Regions from separate parts of the Homo sapiens genome. Here region 2 is linked to region 1. A link means that fine-mapping ties the variant in region 1 to the expression of a gene that starts in the linked region. Tissue or cell type: whole blood. Region 1 holds a variant in brackets; the other region holds the start of a gene. All regions are shown on one strand. Distances are between the middles of the regions.

Region 1 (8,495 bases):
CTGAGATGTGTGGGCGCATGGCTCAGGACTGTCAGGCAGCTCCCCGGGGACAGGCCCAGGATCCACTAGGCAAAGCTAGCTGGGCTCCTGAGTTGGGTGGGGTTTTGGAGAACTTCAATGTCTAGCTGGAGGATTGTATATGCACCAATCAGCACTCTATATCTAGCTAATCTGGTGGGGACTTGGAGAACTTTTATGTCTAGCTAGAGGATTGCAAATGGACCAATCAGCACTCTGTGTCTAGCTAAAGATTTGTAAATGCACCAATCAGTGCTCTGTGTCCAGCTCATCTAGTGGGGACTTGGAGAACTTTCATGTCTAGCTAGAGGATTGTAAATGCACCAATGAGCACTCTGCGTCTAGCTCAGGGATTGTAAACGCACCAATCAGCACTCTGTAAAAATGGACCAATCAGCTCTCTGTAAAATGGACCAATCAGCTCTCTGTAAAATGGACCAATAAGCAGGATGTGGATGGGGCCGGATAAGGGACTAAAAGCAGGCTACCCACACCAGCAGAGGCAACCTGGGTCCCCTTCCATGCTGTGGAAGCTTTGTTCTTTTGCTCTTTGCAATAAATGTTGTTGTTGCTCACTCTTTGGGTCTGTGCACTGCCTTAATGAGCTGTAACACTCACCATGAAGATCTGCAGCTTCACTCCTGAAGTCAGGGAGACCACGAACCCACCAGAAGAAAGGAACTCTGGACACATCTGAACATCTGAAGGAAAAAACCCCAGACACACCTTCTTTGAGAACTGTAAGACTCACCACGAGGGTCTGCGGTTTCATTCCTGAAGTCAGCAAGACCAAGAACCCACCAATTCCAGACACAATATAATCAGGGATAATAAGCAAGAGACATCAATAATATAGATGGGTACTTAATCATGAAAAAATGGTAGCACATGGATTATATCATTCCAGAGGATATGTATTATGACTGCTGTTTTTTATTACTTTTAATTATCTGGCTTATTAGGTTAATACCAAATACCAAAAACTAATACCGAAATAGAGGCACATGGTATTGAAGTTATGGTGATAAAGACAAAGACAGAAAATGTAATTAGAGTCAGCAGTAGGATCATAATGAGGGATGGCATAGCTTAAAAGACAAAGCAAAGTTCTCAAAGTTACTTAAGAAGCCAAGAACAAGCCAGGTGTGAGGAACAAGCTTAGTGTGTATACCAGAAACTGCCCAGAAGGAAAACTAAGTCCATAAAAAGTACAATGAAGGTGAAAGCCAAAATTTCGATGAATAACAGCGGCTGAGCAGGGTTTACGTAGATACTGAAATTCAGGAGCAGAGGCAGATCTGAGACCAACTACACTAATGAGTATCAGGAAAATCAAAGTACAAAAGGGCCCGAAAAGTAAACCATCAACAGGCTCTTTAGTCTCATCAAAAGAATAAGAGGAGACAAAGGGGAAAGCTAAAATACAAAGGCTGGTGCAGAACCAGAGGATGCTGAGGAGTGAAAGTTGGGGACTGGATGGACCAGGAAACAGAAGAGGCTCCAGTACCCAGAGTAAAAACTGACAAGCAATACTCACGTCTGCACGCTTCTGGGATCCACCACAATTTTAACACTTGTATACTATGGCATCTGCAAATGAAAGCAGGCAGAGATTAAATCTCGCTGTGACACTGAATCAAAGACAATAGTATTTGTCAGTTTATTTTTCTCATTAAACTATAAAAATCATGCATATTTATCCATTGATTATTGAAGTCTTCAGATTACAGTCTGGAAGAGCCATTGAGACCATCTTTGGTGATATATTAGCTAATCATATATGTAATTTGTTCATAAAGTAACATTTTCGGCCAAGCACAGTGGCTCATGCCTGTAATCCCAGCACTTTGGGAGGCCGAGGCAGGCGGATCACTTGAGGTCAGGAGTTTGTGACCAGCCTGGCCAAGATGGTGAAACCCCGTCTTTATTAAAAATACAAAAATTAACCGGACGTGGTGGCGCATGCCTGTAATCCCAGCTGCTCAAGAGGCTGAGGCAGGAGAATCGTTTGAACCCCGGAGGCAGAGGTTGCAGTGAGCTGAGATTATGCCACTGCACTCCAGCCTGGGCCACAGAGTGAGACCTGTCTCAAAAATAAATAAATAAATAATAATAACATTTTCATGGGACAAAGTTATACATTTGCTCATTTACCAATAAAATGATTGATTACATCAGGACCTAGGATATTCTGATATATTTATTGCCACATACAAAATCTACTTTAGATGAGACTCAAAGTGTCATATAAGAATATAATGCATATTTATATTTATGCACAGCACATATATATCTACACAGAAATACATGGGGACCTACCTATCTATGCTACCTGAACTATCATGCCGCTTTCCTTGCCACAATAAGCTCTTAGTATGTCAAGGGCTGTAATCACAACTCATTCTTTCTTTTGAGGGCCATTAATTTTGTTTTTATCACCTCATTATAAATAACAATGTTCTTAGATACTATGGCCATTCCCAATTGACTAAGAGTAGAGAAACCCTGGTAGGTGCTAATATTTTATCATTATTTAATTACTACTCTTCTAATAAATTGGAAGAACCATGATCAGACCTCATTAAGGATGATACAATTTCTTTTATCCATCAATCATTGCCCAGGCTAAATTCTTGCTCACTTAAGTCTTAAATTCTACTTATTTACAAAGATCACTAGCTACGTTATTTTTCTACCCTAAAATCAGCTCCTTAATATTGTTTTTCTAATTTTAGGGGCAAAAAAGTATACCAAGGTTTATTAAAAGTTGATGGCAGCTTGAAAACTAGTGCTGACCTGACAGTGGTAGCCTTGGCAGACATATTTTCAAAATTTTTTTCTCAGAGATATTTTTAATGAGGCTTTAAAAATAAGGGTATTTAAAACAAATAAGAATATTAAATACTTTAGATAGCAAAAAAATTTGTTTGTCCTCTGGTATCTTTTCTATAAAAAAGTAAAATGAGTAAATGGTTGTTGATATAGTTTGGATATTTGTCCCTGCCCAAATCTTGTGTTGAAATGTATCCCCCATATTGGAGATGGGGCCTGATGGGAGGTGTTTGGGCCATAAGGCCAGATCCCTCGTGGCTTGGTGCTGTCCTCATCATGGTGAATTTTTGTGAGATCTGGTTGTTTGAATGTGTGCCACACACTTGAACAATTCCCCCACTCTCTTGTGGCACACAATAAACCACCACCACCCCTACTTTTGCTCACTTGCTCCTGCTGCCACCATATGAGACACTTGCTCCCTGCTTGCCTTCCGCCATGATGGGAAGCTTCCTGAGGCTTCCCCAGAAGCAGATGCTGGCACTATGTCTCCTGTACAGCTTGCAGAACTGTAAGTCAATTAAACCTCTTCTCTTATAAATTGCCCAGTCTCAGGTACTCCTTTATAACAATGCAAGAACGGCCTAACAGAAAATTGATATTGAGGAGTGGGGCATTGCTATAAAGAAACCTGAAAATGTGGGAGGAGCTTTGGAACTGGTTAATGGGTAGAGGTTGGAAGAGTGTGGAAGGCTCAGAAGACAGGAAAATGAGGGAACGTTTGGAAATTCTTAGAGACTGGTAAAATGGTTGTGACCAAAATGCTGATAGTGATATGGACAGTGAAATCCAGGCTGATAAGATCTCAGATAGAAATGAGGAACTTAGGCCAGTCACAGTGGCTCATGCCTGTAATCCCAGCACTTTGGGAGGCCGAGGCAGGTGGATCATGAGGTCAGGAGATTGAGACCATCCTGGCTAACACGGTGAAACCCCATCTCTAATAAAAATACAAAAAATTAGCCGGGCACAGTGGTGGGCGCCTGTAGTCCCAGCTACTTGGGAGGCTGAGGCAGGAGAATGGCGTGAACTCGGGAGGTGGAGTTTGCAGTGAGCCAAGATGACACCACTGCAGTCTGGCCTGGGCGAAAGGGCGAGACTCCATCTCAAAAAAAAAAAATAATTAAAATAATTAAAAAAAAAAAAGAAATGAGGAACTTACTGGAAACTGGAGCAAAG[G/C]TCACGCATATTATGCCTTAGCAAAGAGCTCAGCTACATTCTGTTTATGCCCTAGGATCTGTGGAAGTTTGAGCTTAAAAGTGAGATTTATGGTATTTGGCAGAAGAAATTTATAAGCAGCAAAGCATTCAAGATGTGACCTGGCTGCTTTTAACAGCCTACACTCAAATGTGGGAGCAAAGAAGTGACTTAAACTTGGAATTTATATTTAAACAGAAAGCAGAACATAAAAGCTTGAAAATTTTCAGACTGGCCAAGTGGCAGAGAAAGAAAAAGCTTTTTCAGGAGAGGAAATCAGGCAGGCTGTGGAGTAACCACTTGTTAAAGAGATTTGCATAACTGAAAAAGAGCCAGATGCTGATAGCCAAGACAATGGGAAAAAGGACTCAAAGGCATTTCAGAGACATTCACAGTAGCCCCTCCCATCACAGGCCCAGAGGCCTAGGAAGGAACAATGCTTTTGGGGGGCAGGGGCAGGCTCAGGATCCCGCTACCCTGCAAAGACTCAGGACACTGCTCCCCACATCTTGGCCACTCCAACTCCAGCCATGGCTCAAAGGGGTCCAGGTATAGTCAGGCTGCCACGTTAGAGAATGCAAGCTATAAGCCTTGGCAGATTCCCTGTGGTGTTAAGCCTTCAGGCATGCAGAGTACAAGAGTGAAGGCGGCTTGATGGCCTCCACCTAGATTTTCAGAGAATATATAAAAAAGCCTGGGTGCCCAGGCAGAAGCCTGCTGGAGGGGGACAGCCCTAATAGAGAACCTCTACTAGGGCAGTGCCAAGGGGAAATGTGGGGTTGGAGCACCCCACATGGAGTCCCCACTGGGGCACTGCCTAGTGGAGCTGTGGAAAGAAGAGCACCATCTTCCAGACCCCAGAATTGTAGATCTACTGGCAGCTTACACCCTGTGCCTGGAAAAGCCACAGACACTCAACACCAACCTGTGAGAGCAGTGGAGAAGTCTGAATTCTGTAAAGCCAAAGGAGTGGAGCTGCCCAAGGCCTTGGGAGCCCACCTCTCCCACCAGTGTGCCCTGGATGTGGTACAAGGAGTCAAAGGAGAATATTTTGGGGCTTTAAGATGTAATGACTACCCTGCTGGGTTTCAAACTAGCATGGGGTCTGTAGGCCCTTTTTTTTTTTTGCCAATTTCTCCCTTTTGGAACAAGAAAGTTTACCCGGTTCCTGTTACCTCCTTTGTACCTTGGAAGTAAATAACTTGTTTTTATTTTACAGGCTCATAGGTGGAAGGGAATTGCCTTGTCTCAGATTACATTTTGGACTTTGGACTTTTGGTTAACACCGCAATTAGTTAAGACTTTGAGAGACTATTGGGAAGGCACGATTGTTTTGCAATGTGAGAAGGATGTGAGATTGGGGTGTGGGGGGTGGAATGATATAGTCTGGATATTTGTCCCTGCCCAAATCTCATGTTGAAATGCAATTCCCAATGTTGGAGGTGGGTGCTGGTGCAGGTATTTAGGCCATGAGTGTAAATCCCTAATGTCTTGGGGCTGTCCTCATAATACTGAGTGAGTTCTTTTAAGATCTGGTTGTTTTAGTGTGTTGCCACCCCCAACCACCACCATCCTTGCTCTATTGCTCCTGCTCCCACCATGTGAAATGCCTGTTCCCCTTTCACCTTCCACCATGATTGTGAGCTTCTGAGACTGCCCAGAGGCAAATGTTGGTCCTGTGCTTTCTGTATAGCCTGTAGAACTGTGAGCCAATTAAAGCTCCTTTCTTATAAATTACCTAGTCTCAGGTATTCCCTTATAGTGATGCAAGAACAGCCTAGTATAGTTTTTAAAATGCTATTGGAAATTATTTCTTATCCAACTAAAACACTATTTTATATAAAATAGATCATGATGATATGGTTTGGCTGTGTCCCCACCCAAATCTCATCTTGAATTGTAGCTCGCATAACTCCCAAGTGTTATGGGAGGGACCCAGTGGAAGATAACTGAAACATGGGGGTGGTTTCCCCCATACTAGTCTCATGGTAGTGAATAAGTCTCACGAAATCTGATTATTTTATAAGGGGTTTCTGCTTTCACTTGGCTCTCATTCTGTCTATCCACATCCATATAAGAAGTCCCTTTGCTCTTCCTTTGTCTTCTGGCATGATTATGAGGCCTCCCCAGCCATGTGGAACTGTGAGTCCATTAAACCTTTTTCTTTATAAATTACCCAGTCTTGGGTATGTCTTTATAAGCAGTGTGAAAATGGACTAATACACGTGGTTTATCTTATAACTATGAGAACATAGCTATTATTCAGTGTAGAATATTAAAATATTTGTTTTTGTTGGATTTCAAAGAAGCATTGGTTATCATCCTGAAATTTGCATGGACTTGAATCTCCTAGCATACCCTATCCTTCTGCTGATAACAATGATGAATTCTGGTGAAATAAAAGAAAGGAAGAAAGAAACAGAGAAGAGAGGGAATGCGAGAAAGAGGGAAGGAAGGAGAAAAGAAGGAATGAAACAAATGAAACAGAGAAAGAAAGGAGAGAGAATGAAAGGAAGGAAGCAAGCAAGAAGTGAGGGAGGAAAGAGCAGAGAAGAGGAGAAAAGGGAGAGGAAAGAAAGAAAGAAGGAATGGAGAGAGGAGAAAGGGGAAAGGAAGGAAAAGATAAACAAGCAGAAATCTACTTAAATATACTGGAGAGTGACACCAAAAGGAAAAAAAAAGGCAGAGGAGAGTCAACATTCAGAAAAAGGAATGGCAAGGATGATTTTCCAATATTGCATGGCTTTTAGCCAGAGGAGAGATTATAATAACAGCATTCACAGTGGCTAAAACTCTGGTAGGAACCCCAGAATTATTCTGGACAATTGTAGCCACTGAAAAGTGAAAGAAGAATTCTAGATGGGAAGAAAACAGAAAGGAGGAGGGGCCCAAAATTCCATGTATAAACTCTATGCAAATTTCTGGCTAAAGAGAGAAAGAGAGAGAGTGTGTGTGTGTGTGTGTGTGTGTGTGTGTGTGTGTCAGACTCCAAACAGCACAGCTGAACTGAAATTTTGAATTGCCACACATGAAATGGAGTTTGAAGTTTGAATCTTGTTAAATCGATTGCCAATTAAAACAAGCAAATGACAGTGATGCTCTTCAGGAGACCATAACAAAATCTAAAGACAACCTATATTTACAATGACAAGAATGCAATCCAAAATTACTTGACATATGAGGAAATAAGAAGTTGTCACTCATTATCAGAATAAAAGACAACAGAGTTCAAGCTATAGATGACTGAGGTGTTAGAACTACAAGAAAAGAATTTTAAAACAATCATCAATTATGATAAATGACATGAAGAAAAAAATGCTCATAATGAATGAAAAAGTAGGAATCTCAGCAGAAAAATGGAATGGAAAAAAACCTAATGAAAATTTCAGAAAAGTTTAGTACCTATATTTTTTTAAAAAATAATAGAAAGGGCTTAGCAGGAAAATGGGGGTGACAAAGTAAACAGTACACTTGAAGATAGGATCATGGAAATTATCTAACCTGAAGAAGAAAGAAAAAAATTGAAAAATGACCACAGCCTTAAGGACTGTGGGAGAAAAACAAAAGTCCAATTTACTGAAGAAGCAAAGAAAATGGGGCAAAAATATTCAAATAAATAATAAACAAAAAGTTACCCAATTAGTGAAAATAGTAGATGTACAGATATGACAATCTCCGTGAAACTCAAGCAGTATAAATTCAAAAACAAGCATGTCTAAGAACATAATAGTCATACTATTTGAAACCCAAAAAGAGAAAATATATCTGAAAGTAGCAGGAAGAAAACAATACATTACACATAGGAGATCATGGTTAGTTAACAAATGACTTCTCATCCTAAATTATGGATGCCAGAAGACATTGGCATAACATACTCAAAGTGCTTGAAGAGAAAAAAAATGAACTAATAATTTTCATCTAGCAAAGCTATCTCTTAACAATAAAGACAAGGGCTGGGCGCAGTGGCTCACACCTGTAATCCCAGCACTTTGGGAGGCCGAGGCAGGCGGATCACGAGGTCAGGAGATAGAGACTATCCTGGCTAACACAGTGAAACCCTGTCTCTACTAAAAATACAAAAAATTAGCCGGGCGTGGTGGTGGGCACCTGTAGTCCCAGCTACTCGGGAGGCTGAGGCAGAATGGCATGAACCCGGGAGGCGGAGCTTGCAGTGAGCCAAGATCACACCACTGCACTCTGGCCTGGGCAACAGAGCGAGACTCCATCTCAAAAAAATACATAAATAAATAAATAACAATAAAGACAAAATCCTTTTTTAGATTTTAAAAACTGACAGCATTTGTCATAAGTACACTTGTAATATAAGAAATGCTAATGCATGTTTTTCAGCCGAGGGAAAATAATAGCAGAAGTAAATTTGGACCTTTAGGACGGAATGGAAAACACCAGAAATGGTAAATATATAAAACTATTTTCACAGTCTGTGA
Region 2 (6,211 bases), 720 kb after region 1:
GGGGGTCGCTGGGGTCGGCTCCCGCGCCCACGCCGCCCACGGGCGACGACGACGTGCCCAGGCCGCCGAACAGGTAGACGCGCTTCACCTTCTTCTCCGCCAGGTGCTTGCCCGGGGCCGCGAGCGCTGCGGAGGCCGAGGCTGCCGAGGAGGCGGAGGCCGAGGCGCTGGGAGTCCGCGCCTTGTACAGCGAGTGGTGGTCGGCGGCGGCGCCCAGGGGCAGCAGGGCGGCGGCCCCCGCCTGTTCGGCGGCGAAGGAGGCGGCGGCGGCAGCCGCTGCTTTCCCGCCGCCGCCGCCGCCTGCCAGGATGAGCTTGGCGTGCGGTTTGCTAACCCCACCGCCCGCGCCGCCCGCCACTTTGGAGCCGCAGCTCTTTTTCTGCGCCGGTTTGGAGTTGGCGCCGCCGCCACTCGCACCGCCGCCTCCTCCCCCCGCGTTGCTGCTCCCGCCGCCGCCGCCGCCCCCATGGCCGCCCCCGCCACTGCCACCGACCTTGTCTCCCTTCTCCCCCGGCTTGGAGGAGGCGGCGGCCGAGGAGCTGGAGTTGGCGTTGCCGGACTTCACCTTCTTCCTGGGCCGGTACTTGTAGTCGGGGTAGTCAGCCATGTGCTTGAGGCGCAGCCGCTCCGCCTCTCGAATGAAAGGGATCTTGTCGCTGTCTTTGAGCAGCTTCCAGCGTTTGCCCAGCCGCTTGGAGATCTCGGCGTTGTGCATGTCGGGCGACTGCTCCATGATCTTGCGCCGCTCGATCTGCGACCACACCATGAAGGCGTTCATGGGTCGCTTGATGTGCCCACTCGGGGTCTTGCACCAGCTCGGGTCGTCGGCCTTGCCGCCCGTGGAGGCGGTGGAGCCGGGCGTGGGGGAGGAGGCGATTCCCAGCTCGAGGCCGGCGCCCGAGTCCGAGCTCTCGCCGGCCAGCAGCGCTTCCGTGTTCTCGGCATTGTTGGTTTGCTGCACCATGGCCTCGGCTCGGCGGGCGCCCACGCGCGCTCACACCCTCGCGGCGGCCGCCGCGCGATCGCCGGGCCCTCCCGGTTCCCCGGGCCAAGCACACGCCGAACGGGAAGACGCGCGCGGCGGCCGAACTGGCCCCTCAACTCCTCGCAGGGGCGGAGGTGGGTAAAGAGAGAAAAGTCCCCAAAAGATTTGGGGAAGGAGTTCTCCGCCTCTCGCAGAGGAGTTATAGTTCCCAGGCTGGAGAGTCTCTCTCTCCCTCTCTCTCGCTCTCTCACCGCGCTGCAGTTTGCTGTCTCTCGGCTGAGTCTGGAGACCGTGCTAAAGTAGAGAGGAGTTTCTCGAATGCTGGTTGCTGAAGCTTCCAATGCAAGTTTCTCGCGGCCTCCCAGGCAAGTCTTTTTTTTTTTTTTTTCTTTTTCCCTGAAGCAGTTGATTCCAGTTCACGAGCGCTCTCGGTAGCTCAGGAAAGCGACATAGTCTCTAGCACTTAGTCCCTCTCCTACAATGCAAAGCAAAAAAGACTGTGGCTCCAGGACTCTCTGTGGGCGGAATCGGCACTAAGGAGTTGGTGCAATTATTTTGTTGCAAGGTAGGAAGCCAAAAAGCCTGCATGCAACAGACTGGCATGAATAAATGTATGTTTCCCCCTCCCTTCTGCAAGAAGGGAGCTGGTAATGGCAGGAGTTCCTCCAGTGCAGACTCTTAAAGAGCGTGCAAGAACTAGAGACCCGACAGCGAAACAGGCCTCTTCCCCTCACACACAGTTTCTCTTGCTGCAGCTTAGAGCAGACCCCAATTCCGCCTCGCGCCTCTTTATCCTTTCACAGTCTTGGCTGCAGCCAATCAGCTGCTGTAACCAACGCTTCCTCATGCCAAACCCCTCCCCCGGGCTTCCCATTGGCTTGGAACCCGATGCAATAATAATCTCCGCGTGCAATGAGAAGCTCCAAATCTGACCTCATTCCAATTTACAGAGCAAACTTTTTAAAAGGGCTAGAAGTACAGCTGAGATTTCTGCTGCCTCTTTTTTCCTTTTGCTGTGTGTGTGCGCGCGCGTGTGTGTGCGCGCGTGCGTGTGTGTATAGTGTGTGAAGAGGATGTTAATGCATGAAATTATTAAGGGGAGAGACGGAAATGTATTCTAACCATTATGTTAGATAACAAGGGGCTTGGAACGGGGCGGGGTAAGGGTGAAATACTGTAAATGGAAGCTTTCTGCTTAAAAGCCAAGTGATTATTTTTATTAGTTCTTTTCAGCATTGGAATAAAGAATCAGCCTCTGGTGCAAAATCTGTTCCCCAGCTCTTTCTTAAAGCCAAAGCTGTAAAGGGGAAGAGAAAGCCACAAAACAATAAATCAATGGATATTGAAAACCATTAAGAAAGTGGTACCTAGACACCTGTCATCACAATTATTTTAACAACTCTAGGTACAGCACAGATGTTGATGTATTGTGTAAATCCCTTCAGAACCGTTTTTGTGCTGTTTGTGGAAGGCAGGGAAGAGGACTTTGCAATAATTGCTTACTCTCTTAACCAAGCAAGGGTCAACTATGGTTATTTAATGATTTAAACTCCCTGTAAATCCTGCATAGCCCAAACAGGGGAGCTTTCCCTTGAAACACATTAGGTAGTGCTCCGTAATTACCTCAATAGGCAGATTTCCAGAGTTTTGTATAGGATGTATAATGGCATGTAAAGGATGGAAATCGGTTTTACTTTCTAAATATTTGTTTTCCCTGTTTTCAAAATTAAAGATTGCTTCACTCTCTTCCCTCTCCTCCTCCCAAAGCCATCTTCCTCCTTTCCTTCTTATATATTTCCTCTTGTTACTTGAATCGAAGGGAACTGAAAAACCAAGGCAAAGAGAAACTGTAGAAGGAGGTGATAACTGGTAGCAGAAGAGAATGGGGCCTCCGGATTCATAGTAGACCTGGCTGCTAATCCTTCTTAATGGTTTGTAACTATGGGGATGTGGCCAAGTCTCAGTTTTCCTCATCTATTATATGGGAACACTAGGAGCTACTTTATAGAGGGTTGTTGTGAGGGTTCAATGAATTTGTGACTATGAAGCACCTGATGTATTGTAAGCCCTCAATGAATACTAATATCTTCCTTTCTAATTCAAATGCCAGACACACTCCTAGTAAAAGCTGCATGTTGTTCAAGAGGCTAAAACAGAATAGCCACTTATGTAAAAAAGTAATAACAGGCAGGACGCGGTGGCTCACGCCTGTAATCCCAGCACTTTGGGAGGCTAAGGTGGGTGGATCACTTCAGGTCAGGAGTTCGAGACCAGCCTGGTCAACATGGTGAAACCCTGTCTCTACTAAAAATTAAAAAATTAAAAAATTAGCTGGGCAGGGATGCATGCGCCTGTAATTCCAGCTACTCGAGAAGCTAAGGCGGGAGAATTGCTTGAACCCAGGAGGTTGCAGTGAGCTAAGATTGAGCCACTGCACTCCAGTGTGGGTGATAGCGTGTGACTATCTCAAAAAAAAAAAAAAAGTAATCACAGATCATTGATGTGAACCATAGAAGGACAATAGTGGCAACCCTGCCATTCCATTGATTTTAAAAGAAAGGAACTCCATGAAGAATACTAAGAAGAATGTGGCAAAGAAAGGATGCCAAGGTATTCAAAATAAACGTTGGCTACAGAAATTACTTGTTTTCCAGTGTCTGAAAATTAGAATTGTAGTAAAAATCAGCTTTCCTTAACACTATAATAGGAAACTAATATTCTTCAGGCTAACCATAAGTGGTTAGGTAAAGTCAATCCAAAATAATTAAGTCGGCTTTTGATTCAGATTAAACTAGTGCTGGGTAGTAAATTTCTATGTATCTTGTCAAACTTTTAAAGTATGTAGGCTGGCAATAGGCCCAGGTTGTCAGACTTAGAATTTTACTGGAAAGAACACCCTATGTAGCCATCTGACTGGATCTGTAAGGATCAACCACAAGCAAAACTGTTTTTGTGGGTAAAAGCAAATAATTTTTGACGATTAGCTACTTGTATTACATAATTTTTTTAAAAAAGGAGAAACAAATCCTTAAAAAAAGAAAAACCCAAACCAAAAACACACAGGCACCTTTTTTGCATAACAGTGTTGCTGTGTTATATACTACATTTTCTCTGGTGTGCATAGAAACACATCCTTAAATGTTACCAATCTGACAAAAAAAAATTATTTTAAGAGGGCTATTATCTATAAGATCAATATTTTCACTAGAATAAAAAAGAATATTTATTTTTGAATTTGTACTAACTAATGATTTGAGGGTGTAGCTAGTTTGATAATTCAGTCAAGTTGAGTATCAACATTATTGATTATATTTCTCAGTCATTTATGCTTCCATCATCGAATATGATAGGGAAGAGTGGAAGTTAAAGCAGTCATATATGTTTCTGCTTAAAACACATGGATTTTTTAAAGGGTGTACTAAAACACAGCCACTGGCCTCATTCTTTTGTTACATGTATTTTCTGTATTTCAACAAATCCAACAAATTTTAAGACACACCATTATATTACATTCCACCAAGGAAGAAAGCTGCCAATGAAACTGTGATATCCCCCTAGATGTAGGATGCCTCCTTATTTCAGGAAGAGTTGAAATGAAAAGAAAAATTTCCTCTTAGACTTGATGAAATATGGTATCAGTAACTTCCATTGACTTTATAATTACTGCATATATATTTATATATTACACAAGTGCCTAGACTTCTGAAATAGATCTGTTCTAATGGGTTAGTTCTCTTAGAATGTAAGAAAACATATGACGAATGCCCTTTTATTAAAGTCATCTTTGTGACCAACTAAGTGTGTGCACACTGGAATGTGTTGGACCTCTCAATACCAAATAATGAGAAAAGATTTCTCCCTTCTCATTCCCTAACTTCATATGCTCTGTAATCAGTTCTCCATTACTGACATTTTTTTCCCCAAATACCAGATATTTGGTGGCCCCTACTAAATCAGTACGCAGTGTTCCCTCTGCTGGCTTTGCAGTACATGAAGTAATTCTTAATGCTAGTCTTTTAGCTGTATTAAGAGAAAGCCAAGATAATTTTGCAGAAAAAAAAAATCCTGGTTTAGAATAATAAACTGTCTTTGTTAGCAATGATGTTAGACATTTCCAATTTTGAATTAGGTATTTTATTTTATTCCCTTAAATGATGGAATTCCATTTGAGATGTAAGTGTAATATCTGCTAATGCATTTCTTCTGCTCTCACACATCTACACAACATAAAATCTCACATCCATACAATGGTATGGGGCATAGATGAAATAAGATTCTATTCCACTGCTTAATATATTCCTTTGGCATGGAGGGAGGGACCTGAATGGAAATTAGTTTAACAAATCTGGATTTGCACTGATTTGCAAGATTTTGCCTTGCCTTGGTTATAGAAACTATGATTGTAGGCGCTAGTCAGACCTGACAAGTATTCAGTTCAAATAAAATAAAGAGGAGGAAAAACTGTGTAGTTGTTACTTTACCTGACAAGGAAGAAGCCCTGGGAAATCTGATGTCATTGGCCTTTGTCAACTGAAAGGCGCCAGTTTTTTTGGTTCCACACTTTATGGAAAAGAAGCCTCCATGTGAGGCTGATTTACTTCTCAGTCAAGTAGACAAACATAACTTGCACTTCATCCTTTTGGGCTGATGACATTGCATTGTAACTGGGCTCAGCGCGTAATGGGGGTGGGGGTGCGTGCATTGAAAAATAATATATGGAAATAACTCATATTTGCAAAATATCAAAATAGGATTCTGGGGTAAATGAAACCTAGCATTTATTTTTATCACTAGAATAAGCTAAGAGTTAAGAAACCTGCATTTCTAACAATTGTACCATTTTCCTCTCATAACCAGTGACTAGCACACAGTAGGCTTAAGCTGTTCATGCCAATGCCAACTCATTATTCCTTTCCTTCGATTTTCTCAAGAAAACAAGCAGAAGACGAATGTTTGCAGGGCCACTTGGATTGCAAGCATGAATACAGGCTTCTGCTTCTATTCTAGAGGCAGAGGCACGGCACCCGGGGAGAGCCTGGGTTTGTCTGCAGCCAGCCGGCTCCCAATCTGGGGAGAAGCAGCCGCCAGGTGGCATCGCTGAGCCTCCCTGCGCCCGCGAGGCGAGGTAGGAAATCGTGGGGATAGTCAGTCTTCTTTCTTCTCCCCCTTCCTCCTCTCCCGACCCCCCTACCACTCCCTACCACTGTACCTTCTTTAGTTAGAGGC

What was found. PIP is the estimated chance that this variant, and not a neighbour inherited with it, causes the effect.
Region 2: it holds the start of SOX4, and the variant in region 1 is fine-mapped to the expression of SOX4 in whole blood (TOPMed, PIP 0.94).

The regions. Positions count from the first base shown.
Region 1 is chr6:22,309,940-22,318,434 of GRCh38, reverse strand. No RefSeq gene overlaps it. Among named protein-coding and RNA genes, the nearest start is that of PRL, 17 kb to the right of the region's middle. RefSeq lists an enhancer at 4,126-4,680. The variant G/C (reference allele first, on the strand shown) is at 4,030.
Region 2 is chr6:21,589,288-21,595,498 of GRCh38, reverse strand. It overlaps SOX4 (SRY-box transcription factor 4), which reads right to left and starts at 1,748. Exons shown (of 1, transcript NM_003107.3): 1 at 1-1,748. The coding sequence starts at 964. RefSeq lists silencers at 1-47, 98-187, 958-1,137 and enhancers at 6,135-6,184, 6,195-6,211.